Regions from separate parts of the Homo sapiens genome. Here regions 1 and 3 are each linked to region 2. Evidence: fine-mapped expression QTL. A gene starts in region 2. Each other region holds a variant in brackets. All regions are shown on one strand. Distances are between the middles of the regions. Region 1 has its middle 24 kb from the start of ZCCHC4. Region 2 holds the start of PI4K2B (phosphatidylinositol 4-kinase type 2 beta). Region 3 holds the start of SEPSECS (Sep (O-phosphoserine) tRNA:Sec (selenocysteine) tRNA synthase).

Region 1 (8,183 bases), 54 kb before region 2:
CCTGTGTCACCCAGGCTGGAGTTCAGTGGCACAATTACAGCTCACTGAAACCTCTGCCTCTGCCTCCCAGGCTCAGACGATTCTCCCATATCAGCCTCCTGAGTAGCTCAGGCCACAGGTGCATGCCACCATGCCCAGCTAATTTTTTGTATTTTTGGTAGAAACGGGGTTTCATCATGTTGTCCAGGCTGGTCTTGAACTCCTGGGCTCAAGAGATCTGCCCGCCTCCCTCCCAAAGTGCTGGGATTACAGGCATGAGCCACTGCATATAGCCCAGAAATAAAATTTTATGCTTTTATACTTAAAACTTTATATTTTGGTACCCTTTGGGTCTGCTTCCATACTGTCCTAGCCCAGAGGTAACCACAATTCTGAAGAAGGAGACCATTCCTGTCCACATATTCATATACTTACATATATGCCTATGTCAAAAAGCAACATATAGTACTGCTTTGTATTTACAAAAAGGATACGGTTAAATACTTGTGCAAATTTTTCCTTCAACACTGTGTTGAGGTTTATGTACACAATTTGATACATGTAGCTATAGTTCATTTATTTTCACTGTTCTATAGTCTTCCATAGTATGAGCATACCACAATTTACTTATCCATTTTCCTGCTGTCAGATCTTTAGGTTGTTCTCAATTTTTCAGTGTTATAAACACCACAGCATTGAACAACCTTGCATATGTCTGCTTGCATGCATTAGTACCACAAGGTATTTGCACCTTCAGTTTTACCAGATAATTGCTCTCCAGAATGAGGCTGAGGTAGGTAGATCATTTGAGTTCAGGAGTTTGAGAACAGCCTGGGCAACATGATGAAACCCCGTCTCTATTAAAAATACATAAAACTTAGCCAGGTGTACTGGTGTGTGCCTTTAGCCCTAGCTACTTTGGGGGCTGAGGAAGGAGGATCACTTGAACCTGCGAGGTCGAGGCTTCAGTGAGCCGAGATTGCACCACTGCACTCCAGCTTGGGTGACAAATTGAGACTCTACCTCAAAAAAACAAAAACAAAAACAAACAAACAAACAAACAACAACAAAAAACAACGAAATGACTGTACCAATTTTTCCCAAATCTGATCCATTTGAAATGGTAAATCATTTTTTATTATTGTATGAAGGATAATCCACATACAACGAGCTGTACAATTTGATGGTCTTTCACGAATGTCTTCACTTGTGAAACCAGAACCATGATCAAGATAAAAAATATCTCCAGGGGCCAAGATGGCTGACTAGAAACAGCTGTAGTCTGGGCCTGCCGCTGAGAAGAACAAAAATGGCAACTGAGGTATCCAGGTTCTTTCATTGGGACTGGCTAGGAGGTTGGTGCGACCCATGGAGAGCGGGTAAAAGCAGGGTGGTGACAGCCCACCTGGGAGCCACACGGGGTAAGGGGAGCTCCCACCCGTCTAAACCCAAAGAATGGACTTAGAGGCATGAAGAACAGCAAAAGTGAGACTTTTAATAACAGTCTTGCAAGATTGGGTGTCTGGTGAGCAGGCACATCCACGGCAGTCACAACAGGTAATTTATCTCCTAGCACGCAAGTCCCTCCCCCAGTTCCTCATTGGTTGAGTACTATGGGGTTACAATCTTCCCAGTTGTCGCCTAAGTTTCATTATCCCTCTTATAAGGTTATACCCCGTCCCCTTCTCCACTTCAGTTTTGATTTCGCAATAATGAAACTTTCTTCTCTCTCGTGGGTTGACCCCTCCTCTACATTCTGTTCTCTTATTGTGACCTTCTAGGCGCATGAGCCATGCGGTTTGTCACATTTGCAGACTGGCTGCCATACTTAGATTTATCATGCCTTGAAAATGGACCATTTCAAATATTTTCTCACAGAGAAACCACACTTTTTCTATGGATCTGTGCAACCCGCAGATCAGGAGGTCCCTCTTGTGAGCCCATGCCTTGGGACCTTGGTTCCCAAGCACAGAGCTGTGCAGATTCTCAGTGGCCACTCAGCTGGAGACTGCTGAAGACTACTGAGCTACTGAGTTCCGGGGTGCAGGGAGGCGGGGAGCCATTATCACTGCAGCTGCCTTTGGCCTAAGACAACTGAGCTCCCCGGGGGAGGGGCAGCAGTCATCACTGCAGCTCTAGTCTGTAGTTTGGATCCAGGAGGAATTTTCCACAGTGCAGCACAGTGGCTGTGGCTGATTGTGGCCAGACTGCCTCCTCACTAGGCGGGGCCTCCCTGCGGGAATTTCAGCAATTCCAGCCAGGGGTTTATGGACAAAACTCTAATCTCCCTGGGACGAAGCCCTGTAGGGAGGGATGGTCGCGGTCTCTGTGGATCAGCAGACTTAGTCTTTCCACCAGCTGGCTCTGAGAAGTCCAGGCAGTCCAGATGAGTGGGATTCCCCACAGCACAGTGCACCATCTCCGCTAAGGGGCAGCCAGAGTGCTTCGTTAAGCAGATCCCTGATCCTGTGCCTCCTAATTAGGTGAGACCTCCCAACAGAGGTTGCCAGACACCTTATACAAGACCGTTCCTGCTAGTATTAAGTTGGTGCCCCTCTGGGACAGAGCTCCCAGAGAAAGGAGCAGGCAGCCATCTTTGCTCTTCTGCAGCCTCCACTGGTGACACCTTCAGGTCCAGGAGGGACCCAGGAAAATAGGGTTGGGAGTGGACCCCCAGCAAATCGCAGCAGCCCTATGGAAGAAGGGCCTGACTGTTAAAAGAGAAACAAGCAAACAGAAAACAACAACAACAACAGCATCAACAAAAAAGTCCCCACAAAAACCCCATCCCAAGTTCAGCAGCCTCAAAGATTGAAGCTAGATTAACTCTCAAAGATGAGAATCAACGAAAAATTGCTGAAAACTGAAAAAGCCAGAGTGCCTCTTCTCCTTCAAATGGTTGCAACACCTTTCTACCAAGGGCACAGATTTGGGCAGAGGCTGAGATGGATGAATTTGACAGAAGCAGGCTTCAGAAGGTGGGTAATAACAAACTTCACTGAGCTAAAAGAACATGTTCTAACTCAATGCAAAGAAGCTAAGGAACATGATAAAACAATACAGGAGTTGTTACCAGAATAACCAGTGTAGAGAGGAGCATAAATAACCTGATGGAGCTGAAAAACAACACAAGAACTTCACAATGCAACCACAAATATCAATAGCCGAATAGACCAAGTGGAGGAAAGAATTTCAGAGCTTGAAGACTATCTTGCTGAAATGAGACAGGCAGATGAAATTAGGAAAAAAAAAAAAAAAGAATGAAAAGGAACAAACGAAATCTCTGAGAACTATGGGATTATAGAAAAAGACCAAACCTACAACTGATTGGGGTACCTGAAAGAGACAGGGAGAAGAGAACCAAGTTGGAAAACATACTTTAGGATATCATCCAGGAGAACTTCCCCAACCTAGCAAGA[C/T]GGGCCAACGTTCCAATTCAGGAAATCCAGAGAATTCCTGTAATATACCCCGTGAGAAGATCAACCCCAAGACACATATTTATTTACCTCCAAGGTCAAAATGAAGGAAAAAATGTTAAGGGCAGCCAAAGAGAAAGGCCAGATCACCTACAGAAAGAAGGCCATCAACCTAACAGTGGACCTCTCAGCAGAAACACTACAAGCCAGAAGAGATTGGGGCTCAATATTCCACATTCTTAAAGGAAAGAATTTCCAACCCAGAATTTCATGTCTGCCCAAATTAAGCTTCCTAAGTGAAAGAGAAAATCCTTTTCAGACAACCAAATCCTGAGGCAATTCATCACCTCCAGGCCTGCCTTGCAAGAGCTCTTGAAGGAAGCACTAAATATGGAAAGGAAAAACCATTAATGGCCACTACAAAAACACACTGAAGTACAAAAACCAATGACACTATGAAGCAACTACATCAGCAAGTATGCAAAATAGCCAGCTAGCATCACGATGACAGGATAAACTTCACACATAACAATATTAACCTTAAATATAAATGGGCTAAATGCCCCAATTAAAAGACACAAAATGTCAAGCTGAATAAAGAGTCAAGACCCATCAGGTCCTGTATTCAAGAGACCCATCTCATGTGCAAAGACACACATAGGCTCAAAATAAAGAGATGAAGGAAAATTTACGAAGCAAATGGAAAGCAGAAAAATGCAAGAATTGCAATCCTGGTTTCTGACACAACAGACTTTAAACTAACAAAGAAAAAAAAATTAAGAAGGGCATTACATAATGGTAAAGGGTTCAATTCAACAAGAAGAGCTAACTATCCTAAATATATATTCACCCAACACAGGAGTACCCAGATTCATAAAACAAGTTCATAGAGACCTACCAAGAGACTTAGACTCCCACACAATAATAGTGGGAGAATTTAACACCCCGCTGTCAATATTAAACAGATCATTGAGACAGAAAATTAACAAAGATACTCAGGACTTGGACTCAGCTGTAGATCAAGTGGACCTGATAGATATCTACAGAACTCTCCACCCAAAACAACAGAATATACATTCTTCTCAGTGCCACATGGCACTTACTCTCAAATCCATGACATAATTGGAAGTAAAACACTCCTCAGCAAATGCATAAGAACTGAAATCATAACAGTCTCTCAGACCATAGCACAATCAAATTAGAACTCAAGATTAAGAAACTCACCCAAAACCACACAACTACATGGAAACTAAACAACCTGCTCCTGAATGTCTACTGGGTAAATAATGAAATTAAGGCAGAAATCAAGAAGTTCTTTGAAACCAAGGATAACAAAAAGACAACGTACCAGAATCTCTGGGATGCAGCTAAAGCAGTGTTAAGAGGGAAAGGTATAGCACTAAATGTCCACAACAAAAAGCTAGAAAGATCTCAAATTGACACTGTAACATCACAACTAAAAGAACTAAAGAACCAAGAGCAAAAAAACCCTAAAGCTAGAAGAAGACAAGAAATAACCAAGATCAGACTGGAACTGAAGGAGATGGAGACATGAAAAATCCTTAAAAAAAATCAACTAATCCAGGAGCTGGTTTTTTGAAAAAATTTATAAAATAGACTACTAGCTAGACTAATAAACAAGAAAAGAGAGGAGAATCAAACAGACACAATAAAAAAATGATAAAGTAGATATCATAACTGATCCCACAGAAATGCAAGCAACCATTAGAGAAAACTATAAACACCTCTATGCAAATAAACTAGAAAATTTAGAAGAAATGGATAAATTCCTGTATATATACACCCTCCCATGACTGAATCAGAAAGAAGTTGAATTCCTGAATAGAACAGTAACAAGTTCTGAAATTGAGGCAGTAAGAAATAGCCAACCAACAAAAAAAAGTCTAGGACCAGATGGATTTACAGCTGAATCCTACCAGAAGTATAAAGAGAAGCTGGTACCATTTCTTCTGAAATTATTCCAAACTATAAAAGGAGACTATCCTCCCTAACTCATTTTATGAGGCCAGCATCATTCTGATACCAAAACCTGGCAGAGATAAAACAAAAAAAGAAACTTCAGGCCAATATTCCTGATGAACATCAATGCAAAAATCATCAATAAAATACTGGCAAACTAAATCCAGCAGCAAATCAAAAAGCTTATCCACCACAATCAAGTCAGCTTCATCCCCAGGATGCAAGGCTGGTTCAATGTATGCAAATCAATAAGCATAATTCATCACATAAACAGAACTAAAAACAAAAACCACAAGATTATCTCAATAGATGCAGAAAAGGCCTTCAGTAAAATTCAGCATCCTTTCATGTTAAAAACTCTCAATAAACTAGGTATTGATGGAACACACCTCAAGATAATAAGAGCCATTTATGACAAACCCACAGCAATATCATACTGAATGGGCAAAAGCTGGAAGCATTCCCCTTGAAAACTGGCATAAGACAAGGATGCTCTCTCTCACCACTCCTATTCAACATAGTATTGGAATTTCTGGTCAGGGCGATCAGGCAAGAGGAAAAAACAGAGGATTCAAATAGGAAGAGAGAAAGTTAAACTGCCTCTGTTTGCAGATGACATGATCCTATACCTAGAAAACCCCATTGTCTTGGCCCAAAAGCTTCTTAAGCTGATAAATAACTTCAGCAAAGTCTCAGGATACAAAATCAATATGCAAAAGTCACAAGCATTCCTGTCCAAAAACCATAGACAAGCAGAGAGCCAAATCATGAATGAACTCCCATTCACAATTGCTACAAAGAGAATAAAATACCTAGGAATACAGCTAACCAGGGAAGTGAAGGACCTCTTCAAGGAGAACAACAAACCACTGCTCAAGGAAGTCAGAGAGGACACAAACAAATGGAGAAATATTCCAAGTTAATGGAGAAGAAGAATCAATATTGTGAAAATGGCCATACTGCCCAAATTAATTCATAGATTCAATGCTATTCCCATTCAACTACCTCAGACCTTCTTCACAGAATTAGAAAAAACTACTTTGAAATTCATATAGAACAACAACAAAAAAAGCCCGTGTAGCAAAAACAATCTTAAGCAAAAAGAACAATACATATTACCCAACTTCAAACTCTACTACAAGGCTACAGTAACCAAAACAGCATGGTACTGGTACAAAAACAGACACATAGGGCAATGAAACAGAATAGAGATCTCAGAAATAAGACTGCACATCTACAACCATCTGATCTTCAACAAACCTGGCAAAAACAAGCAATAAGGAAAGAATTCCCTATTTAATCAATGGTTCTGGGAGAACTGGCTAGCCATATGCAGAAAATTGAAACTGGACCCCTTTCTTACACCTTCTATAAAAATTAACTCAAGATGGATTAAAAACTTAAAGGTAAAACCCCAAACTGTAAAAACCCTAGAAGAAAATCTAGGCAATACCCATTCAGGACATAGGCATGGGCAAAGATTTCATTACAAAAAGGTCAAAAGCAATTGCAACAAAAGCAAAAATTGACAAATGGGATCTAATTAAACTAAAGAGCTTCTGCACAGCAAAAGAAACTATTATTGGTGAGAAAGACAACCTACAGAATGGGAGAAAATTTTTGCAACTACACAAAGGTCTAATATCCATAGTCTAAAAGAACTTAAACAAATACACAAGAAAAAAACAAACAACCCTGTTAAAAAGTAGACAAAGGACATGAACAGACACTTCTCAAAAGAAGACATTTATGCAGCCAACAAACATGAAAAAAAGCTCAACATCACTGACCATTAGATAAATGCAAATCAAAACTACAGTGAGGCTGGGCACAGTGGCTCATGCGTATAATCCCAGCACTTTGGGAGGCCAAAGCAGGTGGATCACTTGAGGTCAGGAGTTCAAGACCAGCCTGGCCAACGTGCTGAAACCTGTCTCTACTAAAAATACAAAAATTAGCCAGGCATGGTGGTGTGTACCTATAGTCCCAGCTACTTGGGAAGCTAAGGCAGCAGAATCGCTTGAACCCAGGAGGCAGAGATTGCAGTGAGGGGAGATCACACCACTGCATTCCAGCTTGGGCAACAGAGTGAGACTCCTTCACTCACACACACAAAAAACTACAATGAGATAACATCTCATGCCAGTCAGAATGGTGATTATTAAAAAGTCAAGAAACAACAGATACTGGTGAGGGTGTGGAGAAATAGGAACACTTTTACACTGTTGGTGGGAATGTAAATTAGTTCAACCATTGTGGAAAACAGCGTGGGGATTCCTCAAAGATCTAGAACCAGAAATACCATTTGACCCAGAAATCCCATTGCCGGGTATATACCCAAGGAATACAAATCATTCTTTTTTTTTTTTTTTTGAGATGGAGTCTCGCTCTGTCGCCCAGGCTGGAGTGCAGTGGCGTGATCTCGGCTCACTGCAACCTCCACCTCATGGGTTCAAGCAGTTCTTCTGCCTCAGCCTCCCTAGTAGCTGGGACTACAGGCGCCCACCACCAAGCCCGGCTAATTTTTTGTATTTTTTTTGGTAGAGAAGGGGTTTCACCTTGTTAGCCAGGATGGTCTCCATCTCCTGACCTCGCAATCCCCCCGCCTCGGCCTCCCAAAGTGCTGGGATTACAGGCGTGAGCTACCGCGCCCGGCCAGAATACAAATCATTCTATTATGAAGACACATGCATATGTATGTTCATTGCAGCACTATTCACAATAACAAAGACATGGAATTATTATTATTATTGTCAACCCGAATGTCCATCAATGATAGACTGGATAAAGAAAATGTGGTAAATGTAT
Region 2 (8,183 bases):
AGGTCGCAGCTTCACTCCTGAGCCAGCGAGACCACGAACCCACCAGAAGGAAGAAACTCCGAACACATCCGAACATCAGAAGGAACAAACTCCGAACACACCGCCTTTAAGAACTGTAACACTAACCGCGAGGGTCCATGGCTTCATTCTTGAAGTCAGTGAGACCAAGAACCCACCAATTCCGGACACAATAGCACCAGTAGTTAAAACCATTTCTGCTGAAATGGACTTTAGGGAAGTTATAAGAACTACCTTTATGAAATTAATCACTTTAATCACAGATATTGTTCAGCATACAGCATTCACCAAGAGACTGTGACAGGCTACCCTTTGTCTGTTCTGTTTTGGTTCAAATAACCAGTTTATTTTAACTGTATAGACCACATGATTGTGTTTCTCTCAAGTTAGCTGCTCAGTAATTTCAAAAATCAAATCTGTGGGTTGCCTGCATCAAGCATCTGAGGTACATCTTGTGTAATCTTACTCCAGGCTCCATCTTCTCATCTTTCTTCCTTTTAAATGATTTTCTTATTCTGTTCACATATTTATAAACCACCATGAATCATTAAATGACTTACAAATTCACATTTTCTTTTACTTTGGCAGCTCTTTGTGAATTCTAACACTGTTTTCTAACTGTTAGGCTCTCTAACAGGAGCTAAGCGCTCCTGATTTGTATTAACTGGGACCTTGGAGAAGTCACTTCACTTCTTTGTGCTTTTTCTTTTTTTCTTTTGAGACAGGGTCTTTTTCTGTAACCCAGGCTGGAGTATAGTGGTGCAATTATAGCTCACTGGACTCAGTGTAACCTGAAACTCATGGACTCAAGCAATCCTCCTGCCTCGGTCTCCTGAGTAGCTTGGACTACAGGTGTGCACCAAAGAGGCCTCCCAAAGTGTTAGGATTACAGGCGTAAGCCACCATGCCCAGCCTCTCCCTATACTTTCTTAAAATGAGAACAAGGCCAGGCATGGTGGCCTTGTAATCTCAGTGCTCTGGGAAGCCGAGGCGGGAGGATCATCTGAGGTCAGGAGTTCGAGACCAGCCTGACCAACATGGTGAAACCCCGTTTCTACTAAAAATACAAAATTAGCCAGGCATGTGCCTGTAATCCCAGCTACTTGGGAGGGTGAGGCAGGAGAATCGCTTGAACCTGGGGAGTGGAGGTTGCAGTTAGCCGAGATTACGCCATTACAATCCAGCCTGGGTGACAGGAATGAAACTCTGTTCCCCCACTGCCACCCCTACAGCCACCCACTGCCAAAAACAAAAAAAAAAAACAAAAATAGTACTCACATCACAGGGTTGGTTATGAATTAATATATATGAAGCATACAGAACTATGCCTAGCGCATATTAACTGCTATGTAGGCATTAGCTGTCATTACTACCGAATTCACTGATTAAAATAACTAGAACAAGGAATGCACTAATCCTTCCACTTTGACACTGATCCAACAACACTATGGTTTATGCTGTTTGTAGGCTTTGTTAAATGCCTTGTTGAAGATAACAGACATATGACATTCTTCCACTGGCTAAAGTACATAAACCTCTTGCTTATATAAGTAAGAGTTAAGCATCATAAATGATGTTCATATTAATCTAAAGGCAAGAATTTCTTGGAACTAGTGAGGTAGTTTCATGGAAATCGGATGGTAAAGGACAAATGAAGTTAATGGAGTCATTTAAAAAATAACTAAACTTAAAAAGTATTAAATTACTCAATCATGAACATTTTAGTCTTTAAAAATTTTTTAAACAGTTTTCACAGAAACTATTTTAAAGTCCTATTAAAGGTAAAAACCTCCAAAATAACCACAGACACAATTATTTTATAACACTTGTGGACCCATGGCAAAACGGAAAAGGGGCAGAAGATGAAGAAAGAACCAGGCTTCCTCCTGATTTATTACTTCCTGGATATTTGACTTCGGGCAAACCATTTACCTCTGAAGACCTGAGCTACCAGTCATTACCAGTTTATTAATTCTGAATCCTCATAATGAGAATAATGGCGAATAACAACTAACTTGCTGTGCTGTTGTGAAAATAATTAATTTTTTTTTTGAGACAAAGTCTCACTCTGTCACCCAGGCTGGAGTGCAGTGGAGCCATCTCTGCTCACTGCAACCTACACCTCTCGGGTTCAGAAGCGATTCTCCTGCCTCAGCCTCCCAAGTAGCTGGAATTGCAGGCGCCCGCCACCATGCCTGGCTAATTTTTCTATTTTTAGTAGAGGCAGGGTTTCACCATGTTGGCCAGGCTGGTCTGAAAACTCCTGACCTCAAATGATCCACCCACCTAGGCCTTCCAAAATGCTGGGATTACAGGCATGAGCCATGGCACCCAACAGAGAATAAAATTTATTTATTTATTTATTTATTTATTTATTTATTTATTTATTTATTTATTTTTGAGACAGAGTCTTGCTCTGTCTCAAGACAGAACCAGGCTGGAGTGCAGTGGAGAATAAAATATTTTTTTAAAAAAGATCTTAGCAAATTGTAAACTGTGATACAGGTAAGATATTACCTTTAAAAAAGGTAGGAATTCTAAGAATCCATTTGTATTCTAACACTATACTCTATCCTCACTTTGAATTTTTGTTGTTGTTGTTGTTTATTTTTTATAGAGATGGGGATCTCGCTATGTTGCCCAGGTGGGTCTCGAACTTCCAGCCTCAAGCTATTCTCCTGCCTAGACCTCCCAAAATGCTGGGATGGGATTACAGGCCTGCCATCTCGTTGACCTCTCGCTTTGATTTTTTTCTAGCCTTAATACTGTTTGTTTATAAAACACCTCACTTTCACAGAACAAGTGCATTTTGAAGGCTTTAGGCTCTTTTAAAAACCCAGGTACACAAGGTAGCTTACACAAGGTAAGGGACAGAAAAAGGCAAGCTAGCTATTTTACAGACTAAATTCTAAGTAACATATACCCAAATTGCCAATGTAGCTAGGCAAATGCAGACCCGTTTGTGATCTGGTTTCAGCTTCACGTTGTTTGGTTAAACGTCAATGCATCCATCAGGTAACATTATAACGGGAGCAGACGTTGGTTAAAGCTTAAACAATCAGACAAACTGCTCCCCTTGGGATTCTCTGATTTATTTACTCTAGAATATGCCTGAATGTAGCCTCTAGCTAGAACTTGAGTGACCGATTCTATCCAAAATTCTTTAAACTGTAAAGGACACATTAGTGTACCACTAACAGTACATTTAAAATCTAACAATTCCAAAAAAAACTAAGCAGTGTTAAAGAAACTTCCATTTTCTGTGGTTTTTAAGTTGTCATGTGTGAAGCGATAAACCAACCGGGTGCACAACATCTCATTTAATCCATCCTCACAACCAGCAGGGAGGTGTACCATCGCCTTTTTACAAACAAGTCTGTCTCACCTCTAGCTGAGAGTCTTACAAGTCTCTTGCTATTTCCATCACATTTGTCTAACTCCATTCAACACGCCAGAAAAACTCACTTTATTAATAAATATCCAGGCCTGCACAGCATACCTAAATTTAACCTTCAACATCATTTCAACTGCCCTGTTTCGCCTGAGGTTATCAGTCCGCTTAATAGCGAAAAGAGGTTTTTCGTTTTGGTTTTCTTATGTATTAGAAGTAAATCAAGAAAGAGAAACTAAACTGTAAGAGGGCAGGAACAGACTTTCAACTGCTTTTGCCCCCTGTGGCTAACTTCATAATAACAACATTTAATAGAAAAAGGTTTTGAAACGTGCCCCAGTGGCAACTGGATATTCTGGCTGTCCATCTCTCTCCTGTCATCCACTTTGCAAATTCACCACTCCGGGAACTTTCCTGAGAGTTCAAGGTTCTTAATTCAAAAGTCAAGTCCAAACTTGAGCAAGGACTTACGTCATTTTACAGCGTTAACCTCTCCCCAGTGTCGGTTTCTAGAAGTTTTGACTCACTTTGCGGGGAGGTCTAAAGAATCGGTTTAATGACAACCACTGGCCTTAGGAGAGGGAGCTCCCGGAGAAAGAGCGAGCAAGCTAGGTGCCCGCGGTGCGGCTGCGGCTGGCGCCGGTCCGAGCTCGGGAGCTGCTGCCCAGCGAGCGGGGAAAGCCCGTCCACCTCGGCCAGCGCGCGCGGGAGACAGGACCGAGCCGGGCGACAGGGGCAGCCGCCCGGAGGGGCGCGGGGAGTGGGGCAGGGCCGGGTCGCACCTGAAACCGCGGGGCGGCTCCGGTCCAGCTCGGCGGACGAACTCCGGGAGACCCCCACGTCCCCGGGCGGGAGGGGCAGCTCCTCGTCGCCGGCCTCGCCCTCCTCCCCGGCAGCGTCCAGCAGCCTCACGGCGCTGCCTGGGGCGCCTCTCCGCGGGTGGGCCCAGGCGATCCGCGGTAGCAGCGGCTCCCGCTCCCCATCCTCCTCCTCCTCCGGGCTCCCGCCGTCCGCGGACGCCAACCGGTCGGGCTCGGAGGGATCCTCCATGGACTCCCTCTGCTCCCTCCGCGCTGAGACCAGATCAGAGCAGCCAGGTGCCAGAGACTGGGCTCTGCATGGCGCGGAACGGGAGCGACCGGGTAGAACGGACGCCACCTCACCAGCGCACGGGCACGCTTGGCGCCCGCCCAGCGGTTGTCCCGCCTCGCCGCCGGCCGCGCCCCACCTCGCGCCTCCGCCAGGCACCACCCCCGCGCCTGCGCAGAAGGGTCGTGGCGGCGGCGGCGGCGGCAGCGGGGCACGTGGGAGTGAACAGGGGGCGGGGCTTTTGAGGGGTCAGGTGGGGTGGGGCCGCCACCTGCTTCCGTGAGCGCGGGGAGAAGCTGGGCACAGCTCGCTTTACTCCCAGTGGAGGGCGGGAAGGTGAGTAATTTTCAAAGAGGTGCCCTCCTGCAACCAAAAGCGGCTTCTCCCTGACAGAATTCTCTCTCAGAGTTTACCATAATCTGTAACTATAGATTTAATTGTATGACATTTCTTTCCTCCAGTAGACGTCCAGGAGGGCAGGGACCTTGTCTTTGTTCAGATATTCTTGATAGTGGCAGTTTGTATGTTTTCTTTTTCTGACTAATCTAGCTAGAAGTTTATCAATTTTTAAATCTTTTCAAAATGTCATGTTTTGGTTCCATTGATTTTCTGTTTTCTGGTCCATTGCCTTATTTTGCTCTTTATTGCTCACTTGAGTTTTGATTTCCTCTTCTTTTTCTAGTTGCTTAGAGTAGAAGATGATTGATTCTGGATCTTTCTGCTTTTCCAATGCTAGTATTTTAAGGCTATAAATTGCCCTCTAAGCACTGCTTTAGCTGAATTCTCCTTTTTTTTTTTCTTGGTGGTTGTTATTTTTGAGACAGGGTCTCACTTTGTTATCCAGGCTGGAGTGCAGTGACACAATCATAGCTCACTGCAGTCTCAACCTCCTAAGCTCAAGGGATCTTCTCAGCTTTAAACTGTAGAAGACACAGTAGCTGGAACTGCAGGTGTGCACGACCACATCCTGTTAATTTTTAAATTTAAATTTTTTGTAGAGATGGGATCTCACTGTTGCCCAGATTGGTCTTGAGCTCCTGGTCTCAAGCAGTCGTCCTGCTTCAGCATCCCAAAATTCTGGGATTACAAGCATAAGCCACCTTGCCTGGCCTGCTACTGTGCTTTTGTTTTCCTTCAGCTGAAAATAGTTTTTAATTTCCTTTATGATTTCCTCTTTGACCCTGTAAAGGAAAATAAAAATCTCAGAACCACCCCCCACCCCCAACTTGTTATGTCAAAGGGAGAGTTAAGCCTGGAGACTGAAGTCACTCAACACTACAATGCTTTTCCCAAATGGATAGCTGTTACTTCCCATAGTTGTATTAAAACTTTATATGTTAGCCAGACCCTCCTCAAAATGCAAAAAAAAGCCTTATGCATCTCAGTCTCAGGATGACTGTCCTCAACAAATTAATCATAGTAAATTCTTTACTGGCCCTTAAACCTTTCAAGATGTATATCCTTCCATAAAACAAGGACGTGTCAATTGTATAACTTTAAGTCTGCAACCTAAATCAAACTGGTACAACTAAAGTCTGTTAAATTTCACATGGATAAATTCAGTTACAAGCTTATCTTCCCAGATGCAGAACAAGGATAAGATCAATCATTCCTTCACCTGAGATATCTGTATAATTAACTTCCTTTACTCCATTTTCTTTGAATATTCACCTTATCTTATGCATAGCATAGAGTTACTGGGCACTACCTAAAGTCTAGCAAAAATGTAACCATTTGCTTCACCACCTACAACCCTCTTCCCTGATGCCTTCTCCGCTTTAAAGAAAGAATAGCTGTAATTACAGGTGCCTGCCACCATGCACGGCTAATTTTTGTATTTTTTAGTAGAGATAGGGTTTCACCACATTGGCCAGGCTGGTCTCGAACTCCTGACCTCAGATGATCCACCCGCCTCGGCCTCCCAAAGTGCTGGGATTACAGGTGTGAGGTACTGCACCTGGCCTGTAAATGCCTTTTAATTGGAGTTTGGGGTCCATTTACATTTAATGTAATAATGATGTGGTTGGATTTAGATCTATTATTTTGCAATTTGGGTTTTATTTGCTTTAACCTTTTCGGTTCCTCTGTTCCTCCTTTCCTGCCTTCGTTTGGATTAATTCAATAATTCTGATTATTTCATTTTCATTCCACCATTGACTTTCTGTTATACTTATTTTTTTTCTTTTTTTGAGATGGAGTTTCACTCTTGCTGCCCAGGTAGGAGTGCAGTGGTGCAATCTTGGCTCACTGCAACCTCTGTCTCCTGGGTTCAAGCTATTCTCCTGCCTCAGCCTTCTGAGTAACTGGGACTACAGGCACATGCCACCATGCCCAGCTAATTTTTGTATTTTTAGTAGAGACGAGGTTTCACCATGTTGGCCAAGATGTTCTTGATCTCCTGACCTTGTGATCCACCCACCTGAGCCTCCCAAAGTGCTAGGATTACAGGCATGAGCCACCACGCCTGGCCTCTGTTATACTTCTTTACATTAATTTTTAGTGCTTACACTAGGGTTTTCAATACTCATCCTTAAATTATCTCAGTGTACTAAGAGCCAATATTGTACTATTTGACATAAGAGGTAAGAACTTAGTGTCATTCCATTTATGCCCCATCGTTTATGTTATTGCTGTCATGTATACTAGACCTAAATATTTAAATACAGTGAATAATTTTTGCCTTAATTGCTTTTTTAGAGAAATTACCCACATAGTTACAACTTCCGGTGTTCTTCCTTCCTTTTTGTAGATCAGAGTTTCTATCTAGTATCATTTCCCTTTCCTCTGAAGAATTAAAAACAAATTTTATAATGCAGATTTGCTGATTAATATGGCTTGGCTGTGTCTCCACCAAATCTCATCTTCAATTCCCACGTGTTGTGGGAGGTGGGAGGTGGGAGGTGATTGAGTCATGGGGGCAGATCTTTCCAATACTGTTTTCATGATGGTAAGTGAGTCTCATGAGATCTGATGGTTTGAAAAACAGGAGTTTCCCTGCCCAAGCTCTCCTTGCCCGCTCCCATCCACGTTAGATGTGACTTTCTCCTCTTTGCCTTCCCCCATAATTGCAAGGCCTCCCCAGCCATGTGAAATTGTAAGTCCAGTAAACCTCTTTCTTTTGTAAATTGCCCAGTCTCAGGTATGTCCTCATCTGCAGCATGAAAACAGACTAATACACTGGTGATAAATTTAAGTTTTAATTTATTAGAAATTGTCTTTATTTTACCATCATTTTCAAATGCTATGTCCTCTGGATACAGACTTCTGGGTTGATATTGCTATCCTTACCCATCTAAGTTCAACTGTAAATATGTCATTCTATTGTCCTCTTGCCTTCATTGTTTTTGAATCATAACCCTTCACTTACACACCCGACTTGTGCTATGTCATTTTCTCTAGCTGCCTTTAAGATTTTCTCTGGTTCTTTGGTTCTTTGATTTTCAATAGTTTGACCATGATGTTTTTGGTATGATTTTCTTTACAAATATCTTGCTTAGGTTTTGCTTTACTTCTTGAATCTGTAGATTTATGTTTTCCACAAAATTTGGAGAAATGTCATTCTTTTTTTTTTTAGAAGCAGTTTATTACCTTAAAGCATTTAGCAAACCTAATGTCTGACCTAATTTCAACCAAATGTCTTTATTTTACCAATAATCTTCAAAACTCTTGATTTCCCAAAGCCTAC
Region 3 (8,181 bases), 75 kb after region 2:
ATTTAGCTTTCTCTGGTTGGTCTTAAGTTAGAAGCGAGTAATAAAAGAGGGAAGCTGGCAGTCATTGCCCAAGTCTTAACCATTCTTGGCTGATTGCTGCAGAGGTGGTGGTTTGGAAGTCTAGTTGCTAGAGAGGTTGTGGGTGAGAGTTCTGTTATCACATATGATCTGGCCATTGTCCATTTGTATAGTCAGTCTATCTAGGGGAAGATGTCATTGAGCAATTACCTCTCATTTAATCATCATAACTGCCTCTTCCATATCCCCATTTTACAGATAAAGCAAAGCTCAGGAAGTTTGAGTAATGTATTTAAGGTTATACAACTAGTGACCCTAGCAGAATTTAAACCTGTGTGTTCTGGACCTATTTTAAATGATGCTTCATCTTGTAAAGACCATGAGGTTATTCTGATGTTGCCCTATTAAAAATAGTAATTACATACTATTATTAAAAATAGTAATTACATACTATTTTAAAATAGTAGTTACAAACTACTATTTTAAAATAATAATTACATACTATTTTTAATAGATAGCATCATTTAAAATAGGTCCAGAACACACAGGTTTAAATTCTGCTAGTGTCACTCATTGTATAACCTTAAATACATTACTCAAACTTCTTGAGCTTTGCTTTCCTGATCTGTAAAATGGGCATATGGATAAATACTTGTTGGGTGAGTGAATGGATGAAAGTAATTTTAGAATACTTCTCTTGAAATTGCTTCCAAAGCTGGTATCTTTTGAATACCTTTAATGAATGCATATCTTGACAATGACTAACTTTTTGGAAACAGACAAACATTTTTCTGAAGTAAGGTGGTGAATAAGGTAAGAGAAGAAGCTGGCTCAAAAACCTGGCGTGTCCATTCAGTAATGACATTAATTTTGGGATTTTTGCACATTTTGCATGTGATTGACAAAGCAGCTTTGAAGGCTTTTCCAAAGAAGAAGTTGCAAAAATAGTTGCATTTTGAGAATAGGAACACAACTTTCCAAAAGTTTGAAAAATACTCATTTTAGAAAGTATGCTAAATTCTTGTTGTTTTGTGGTTTACCTTTCTGTTTAAAGTAGTTAAATGCTCTATGTCATTCAACAAATATTTATCAAACAGCTATTATGTATTTAGTGCTGTGCTTTGAACACAGATATTGGTATAGCCCTTGTGAACCAGGAGTTCACAGTCTAGTTGAGACAGAAAATTAACAATTGAAATGCAATTCAACAAATACCATAAATAGACTGATTTATATTAATAGCTGGATGCCATGGGAACATGCAGTAGAAACAGTGATGAGCTGGTACATGTTGAACAACTGACTTCTAGGGGAGTGGGTTGGAGTGTAAGGGCCTGATTAGCGGTGTTTACTGATTTCCATGGTGTAAATGCTCCCACCATGGCCAACGTGACATCATCAAAAGAGGAGTTGGAAGATGTGCAGTAGTATAACATTACATTGAATTTCCACCATATAGATAAAATGCATGTAAATAACCTGAAGAGCATAGATAATAGTAAAATGTAAAATAATTAGGAAGTGACAAATTTTGAGTATTTTTACTTTTGCTTGTAATATAATTTTTGAGTGGCTGTATTTGAAAACTAGCTCACAAAATTACTGAACATTTAACAATCAGCTCTTGCAAGTGGGTGTGACTCAGTGCAAATGGACAAACCACCAGGTGAAAGCAATGTCAGGAATTACTGTAGGCTCACATAAGATGAAGATTGTAAGGAAACTGGAGGCAGGGATCTCCAGCAGTGAACCTCTAAGTTGTTGAACTGTTACAGCACTGCCAGGTTCCTATGCCGGCTGTGCAGAAACAGACCAGTATTCCGACAGCAGGCTTGCAGCAGAGAAAGTTTTAATAATCACAAGTTACAAGCCAGGAAACAGGAAGAGTTCTCAAGCTTCAATCCATTTCATCAAGGGGTTCTAGGCAAAGTTTTTTAAGGGGATTTGTGGAGGGTGAGGGGCTGGAAAATTTGGGGTTATCGATTCGTTGGGGTAAGGGAGATGAAATCATTAGGATGTGACAATTGCATTCCTCCATGAATCAGCTTTTTATTGGGCCTTCCAGACAAGTTGGCGTCCTTAGTTTTGTTGGTATGCGGGACCTAAAGAAGCAATGCAAACAGAAAGCTTATCTTCTCATAATGTCTTAGATTTTATCTTCAGAGCAGAAAAAGAATGAAGAGTCTTGTGACAAGGGCCACATTCTCCTGGGGTAGTAAGTAGCAACCAGCTACAAGAAAGTCGGCCACACTGCAAGCTGGCTTAATAACAGCAGCTGTAAGCCTAGTTGGATTTTTTTCCCCTCCTTAATCAATTTTACAAAATGTTCTTGGGGATAGTTTCAGAATGGTCAAACTAATTCATTAATTCAATATCAACTTTTTTTTTAGGCCCTACTTTATTCTGGGCACTGTTTTAGGTGCCCGGGGGAAGGGGGCACCGCAGCAAAAACCGAGGTCCTGCCGTTAGGTTAGAGAGTTTACATTCATGGGTATGGGTGTGTGTGTGTGTGTGTATAAACAAACGTCTGGCATGTCACGTGGTGAGTAGTAAGTGCTATGGCTAAACAGTAGTGTCAAGGGGAAAATGAGTGGGGCACTGCTATTTCCTATGGGGTTGTGAGGCAGTAATAAGTGTGGAAATGTATCAAAGTAAAGATCGAAGGTTCTGGCATCTGACAGTTTGAATAAGGCGGAAGCACAGACCCTGCACAGATCTCAACCATCCAACAGGACTGAAACACAGAACTTGGAAAAACCCACGTACCTGCTTCTTACTCTGCTCGCCCGGTCTGCACAAGTGCAAAATCCTTTCCTGAAGTTTGTGTCAGGAACACCAGGGTTTAACTAGACGAATCAGCCGCAGCGGGGCGGGGCTAATTTCAGTCCTTCCTTTGCCAAAAGTCAGCGAAAAGCGCGGACTCCCTCGCGCATGCTCAAATACGCCAACTTCCTCCTGGAGCGCCATCTGAGAAGGTCTGCGCATGTGCACGAACGAGAAGTGTTTTTTTTGTTTTGTTTTGTTTTGTTTTGTTTTTTGTCCCAAGGCGCTGCCGTACCGTCCAGGCGGCGAGTTGCATTCTGGTTCCGTCGTGTGTCTGGCGTGTGGAGCTAGTGCTCCCGCTTATTCGCCACTGTCGCCACCGCTGTCATGAACCGCGAGAGCTTCGCGGCGGGAGAGCGGCTGGTGTCGCCGGCTTACGTGCGGCAGGGCTGTGAGGCCCGCCGCTCGCATGAGCACCTCATACGGCTGCTTCTGGAGAAGGTACCGAGCTGTCGGTCCCCTCCCCAGCCGCCGCGACCCCGGGGCTCTGGCTCCGCCGGGCGTCCCCGCTGGTGCTGCCTCACCGGCAGCTCTTCGCTGCTTGAGACTAGTCCCAAGTCTGTCTCAGCTTGGCTTGCCCTAGCTGACCGACTGCGGTCTGTGCCTTCTCAGCCTTGCCAAAGCCAGTGAAAGCCAAATGGTGTTGTTAGGAGGGGGTGTTGGGGTCGGGGTTTTGAGTCCCGCTGTTTCTAACTTCGGGATGCGGAAGTGAGGGAAAGTCCCAGTGTACTTTTTTATTCGCGGAAAGGGCAAAGTTCGCACCTCCATCTTTCACCAACCCTCAACGACTCAGAACACATAATGGTGTTTGTAGACTGTATGCTAACTCGAACCACGAGCTTTCCGCGGAACTTCACAGGTCTCCCTCCTGCCAGCGTTCATGTATTTTAATTTCATTAAAAGTTTTGTTGTGTTTTGTTTTTTTGAAACAGAGTCTCGCTCTTTCGCCCAGGCTGGAATGCAGTGTGACGATCTCGGCTCACTGCAGCCTCCGCCTCCCGGGTTCACGCCATTCGCCTGCCTCAGCCTCCCGAGTAGCTGGGACTACAGGCGCCCGCCACCACACCCGGTTAATGTTTGTATTTTTAGTAGAGATGGGGTTTCACCATGTTGGCCAGGCTGATCTCAAACTCCTGACTTCAAGTGATCGGCCATTCTTGGCCTTCCAAAGTGCTCGGATTACAGGCGTGAGTGAGCTACAGCGCGTGGCCAAAATTTCACTGAAGTTTGACAACTACCGCCCTTCTCCACGTCCCACCGCCCCAGTCGTAACGCCCTGGTTTGAAGCATCTTCACTGGGGATGTGTTGTATTGGTTTTCAGTTAGTTTCACTTACGGAAATTTAAATATCTCAGTAAACCTCATTGTATGCATTTATCATCACTTCTCGAAATCTGTAAATAATTGTAATCAAATGTACAAACGTTTTGCCTCTTTGCGGTCTCTATACAGTGGTGAATTTATGCTTGAATTTTAGAAAACAAGCAGCGTGGCAAAATACACGTTAAAAAGAAAAACTGTATTCCTGTAGTATTCTAGAGAACGGTAGTTTTATTAAATATAATCATAAGTTTTTTTTTTTTTTT[A/TA]AGGGCAAGTGTCCAGAGAATGGCTGGGATGAAAGTACACTTGAACTCTTTTTACATGAACTTGCAATCATGGACAGCAACAATTTCTTAGGCAATTGTGGTGTGGGAGAAAGGGAAGGGAGAGTGGCATCCGCACTGGTTGCTCGTCGTCATTACAGGTATCTTTTTTTAAGTAGTACAGGAGATACATCGTTTATTTATTTTTGGTTCAAAATAATGGCAGCAGTATTTATCTTATTAGATTATCAAATGTCAGTTTGTAAACCACTTCTTCCCTGCTCTAATGGATATGTAAGCCAAATGCAACAGGGAGATGGAAACAATTTTATCTCAGCAGGTGCTTTTCAAAGACAATAGAGTAAAAACTAAGTGGGGGTTACCCTGTCAGGTTCTGGGTGACTAACACAGGCTATACGTTTTCTTAGGAACGGTTACCCTAATAAACATATCTGGTTGTAAGAGTTCAAAATCCATTAAGGTTGTTTATAGCTTTCCATATTTCTTTTCTAACATTTGTAGTGTTTTTTTTTTTTGAATGATTTATAGTTATCAACTTTAAATTTTGTTTTAAACTGTGTTTAAACTGAATCTCATTTTATAAATACCTCTGTTGCAATAGATACAGGGAAAGGTGTATTAGATTATTAAGTGACCTTTTTCTTTTGCATTATTGCAGAAAGCTTTTCATCAATTCTGATAACGATTTAATTGGTAGTTAATTGGTAGTTAATATGATCACTCATTGCTCTGTCCACTAACCTTTCTGTGAAGTGTAAACTCTTTTAAATGAAACTCCTGTCTTCCATGCTTTTACATTATAATGAAAATTTCCTGGGCATCGTAGAATTTGTATTTCAGTAAAAACCACTGCAGTCAAAACTGATGATAATGCCTAACTTGGATGAAAATTTCAGTTAACAGTTTGCTGATAACATGGTTGATAATATATGTAAGAAATGTTTTGTACATGAGATTTCAGTGGTGAGGAAGTACAGCACTAGTATTCTTCGATAATCCTCCTATACCGAATTTCTGATATATTTGACTGTCAATTAGAAATTACTCAAATTACGAAAGGGTTTTTTATTTTAAAGAGTATTGAGAGGTATCTTTAAACAATGTATAATATTGTCTAATTTAAAATGAGATTTGCACACTGATTTTCTAGGAGCATATAGTTCTTTTAAAATTAAGGCAATATTTGAACCATCATTGGAACTTAGCCCAGTGTGGAATTAGGGGAAAAGTAAAGAAAAAAGATAATTTGGCCGGGCACGGTGGCTCACGCCGGTAATCTCAGCACTTTGGGAGGCCAAGGCGGGCGGATCACGAGGTCAGGAGATCCACACCATCCTGGCTAACATGGTGAAACCCCGTCTCTACTAAAAATACAAAAAAATTAGCCGGGCGTGGTGGCGGGCGCCTGTAGTCCCAGCTACACGGGAGGCTGAGGCAGGAGAATGGCGGGAACCTGGGAGGTGGAGCTTGCAATGAGCCGAGATCGCGCCACTGCACTCCAGCCTGGGCGACAGAGCGAGACTCCGTCTCAAAACGAAAAAAAAAAAAAAAAAGATAATTTAATATTTCATGTATTCTAGTTTTCTATTGCTACAGAACAAACCACCCTAAAATTAAGTGGCTTAAAACATTTATTGTTACCTCTCATAGCTTTTTGGATTAACTGGGCTCAGCAGGGTGAGTATTGCTTTGGGTCTGTCATGTAGTTGCAGTCAGATACTGGCTGAGAGTTTAGTCATCTGAAGGTTTGCCTAGCATGAAAATTTCACACAGTTACTTCTGCTAGATTCTTCCTGGCCAAGCAAGTTACTAAATTCAGCCCAGATTCAAGTGGAGAGGAAGTAGACTCCATCTCTTGGTGTGGGAGTAGCATGTGGGCATAGGGAGAAAAAGAATTGATGGTGGCCGTCTTTGGAAACTAGCTATCACAGCATAATTGATGAAATTATTTCAATTTAAGTAGGAGAGTTCCACATCATTAATAGTTTGTGACATATATCTGTAACAGCCAAATATTGCTCCTGGTGTTTTTTTGGTTATTACATTTGCATATTTGTACATTGTATTACTCGGAATGCTGAATGTATTTGTCCAGTTTTTGGCCCATTTTTTGCTTAGGTTCATTCATGGCATTGGACGATCCGGTGATATTTCTGCTGTGCAACCAAAAGCTGCAGGCTCTAGCCTTTTGAACAAAATTACCAATTCTTTGGTCCTGGACATTATAAAGCTGGCTGGTATGTACCGTCTTAATCATAATGCTTTTGGCTGTCTGGACACACACACACACCACTGACTCATTTCATTTATTATTGCCCCTTTCCAAAAAGAGTATGAGTGGCTTTTGAAAAGACTTCTTTTTTTTTTTTTTTTTTTTTTTTTTTTGAGACGGAGTCTAGCTCTGTTGCCCAGGCTGGAATGCAGTGGCGCGATCTCGGCTCACTGCAAGCTCCGTCTCCCGGGTTCACGCCATTCTCCTGCCTCAGCCTCCCGAGCAGCTGGGACTACAGGTGCCCACCGCCACGCCTGGCTAATTTTTTTTTGTATTTTTAGTAGAGACGGGGGTCTCACCGTGTTAGCCAGGATGGTCTCGATCTCCTGACCTCGTGATCCGCCCGCCTTGGCCTCCCAAAATGCTGGGATTACAGGCATGAGCCACCGCGCCCGGCCGAAAAGACTTTTTTTTTTTAAATAAAAAGTCTTTAGAATAAGATAGAAAATCAGAGCCATAAGCCCTGAAGTTGAATTTGGCATTGAGCTTTCCAAGAGCGAGTACAGAAACAGAAGCCCTAGGGCTACGACTCTTACTATTTTATATATGAAATATATTATTTCCTCAAGAAGGATGCTGGGTGCTTAGCGGGATAACAGATTTCTGTTTTGCTTCTTATTTGTAGGTGTCCATACAGTAGCCAACTGCTTTGTAGTTCCTATGGCAACTGGTATGAGTCTAACTCTGTGTTTCTTAACATTACGACACAAAAGACCAAAGGCAAAGTATATTATATGGCCACGAATAGACCAGAAGTCCTGCTTTAAATCCATGATCACTGCAGGTAAGAGAAGTGTCATACATAATGTTTTAAACATCATAATTATGAAATTCAGATTTCTTATATAAAGATAGATAAATGAAAAATAAACTAACTCTCTTCCCTATTGCTTTTTTAAAAGAAAAAATTGTAAAATATATGTAACAAAATTTAATGTTTGTATTACTTTATGCAACTTTTAAGTTTATGGATACCTAAATATCTATGGTTCCATAATTATTATTTGTTGGGGGACCTTTGCGTATATACTAGTTAAGTGTACTGTTTTAATTGAAAATGTGAAAACAATTTTTATGCAAAATTTACAGTATACATTTTGTTTTCATAGGAGGCTTTTGTAGGCTATGAGATGGATCAGTGATCCTTAGGCTACTGAAATTTATTATGTTTTTCTTTAGAGGTAAAACATTAAGTAGATGATTGTGATTTGTTTCACTGAGTGAATTGTATTATTATTTATGTCCATCTCTGAAATAAAATGAACTTTAAAATAAAACAGAAATATCACCAGAGAATGAGTGGACTTATTTTTCTGTGGATTGAAACTGAACTGGATTAAAGTGATCCTTTTTGTCATCAGTGTCTATGTTATTACTTCTATAGATATCTATTTAACATTTGTTTTCCTTACTTTCCAGAATTCATTCTTGTCATATCCAAGTGTTAAATAGACTTATGGTCCT

The links. PIP is the estimated chance that this variant, and not a neighbour inherited with it, causes the effect.
Region 1: its variant is fine-mapped to the expression of PI4K2B in whole blood (INTERVAL, PIP above 0.99).
Region 3: its variant is fine-mapped to the expression of PI4K2B in whole blood (INTERVAL, PIP above 0.99).

Annotation. Positions count from the first base shown.
Region 1 is chr4:25,284,857-25,293,039 of GRCh38, reverse strand. No RefSeq gene overlaps it. Among named protein-coding and RNA genes, the nearest start is that of ZCCHC4, 24 kb to the left of the region's middle. The variant C/T (reference allele first, on the strand shown) is at 3,399.
Region 2 is chr4:25,230,440-25,238,622 of GRCh38, reverse strand. It overlaps PI4K2B (phosphatidylinositol 4-kinase type 2 beta), which reads right to left and starts at 4,590. Exons shown (of 10, transcript NM_018323.4): 1 at 4,192-4,590. The coding sequence starts at 4,459. It overlaps LOC105374535 (a long non-coding RNA gene), which reads left to right and starts at 4,758. Exons shown (of 4, transcript XR_925490.3): 1 at 4,758-4,834. RefSeq lists enhancers at 3,701-3,830, 3,763-4,262, 4,263-4,764 and silencers at 4,051-4,110, 4,151-4,390, 4,491-4,800.
Region 3 is chr4:25,155,357-25,163,537 of GRCh38, reverse strand. It overlaps SEPSECS (Sep (O-phosphoserine) tRNA:Sec (selenocysteine) tRNA synthase), which reads left to right and starts at 3,089. Exons shown (of 11, transcript NM_016955.4): 1 at 3,089-3,282; 2 at 4,431-4,585; 3 at 6,564-6,682; 4 at 7,343-7,501. The coding sequence starts at 3,169. It overlaps SEPSECS-DT (SEPSECS divergent transcript), which reads right to left and starts at 2,866. Exons shown (of 2, transcript NR_037934.1): 1 at 2,785-2,866. RefSeq lists an enhancer at 2,826-3,125 and a silencer at 3,236-3,405. The variant A/TA (reference allele first, on the strand shown) is at 4,428.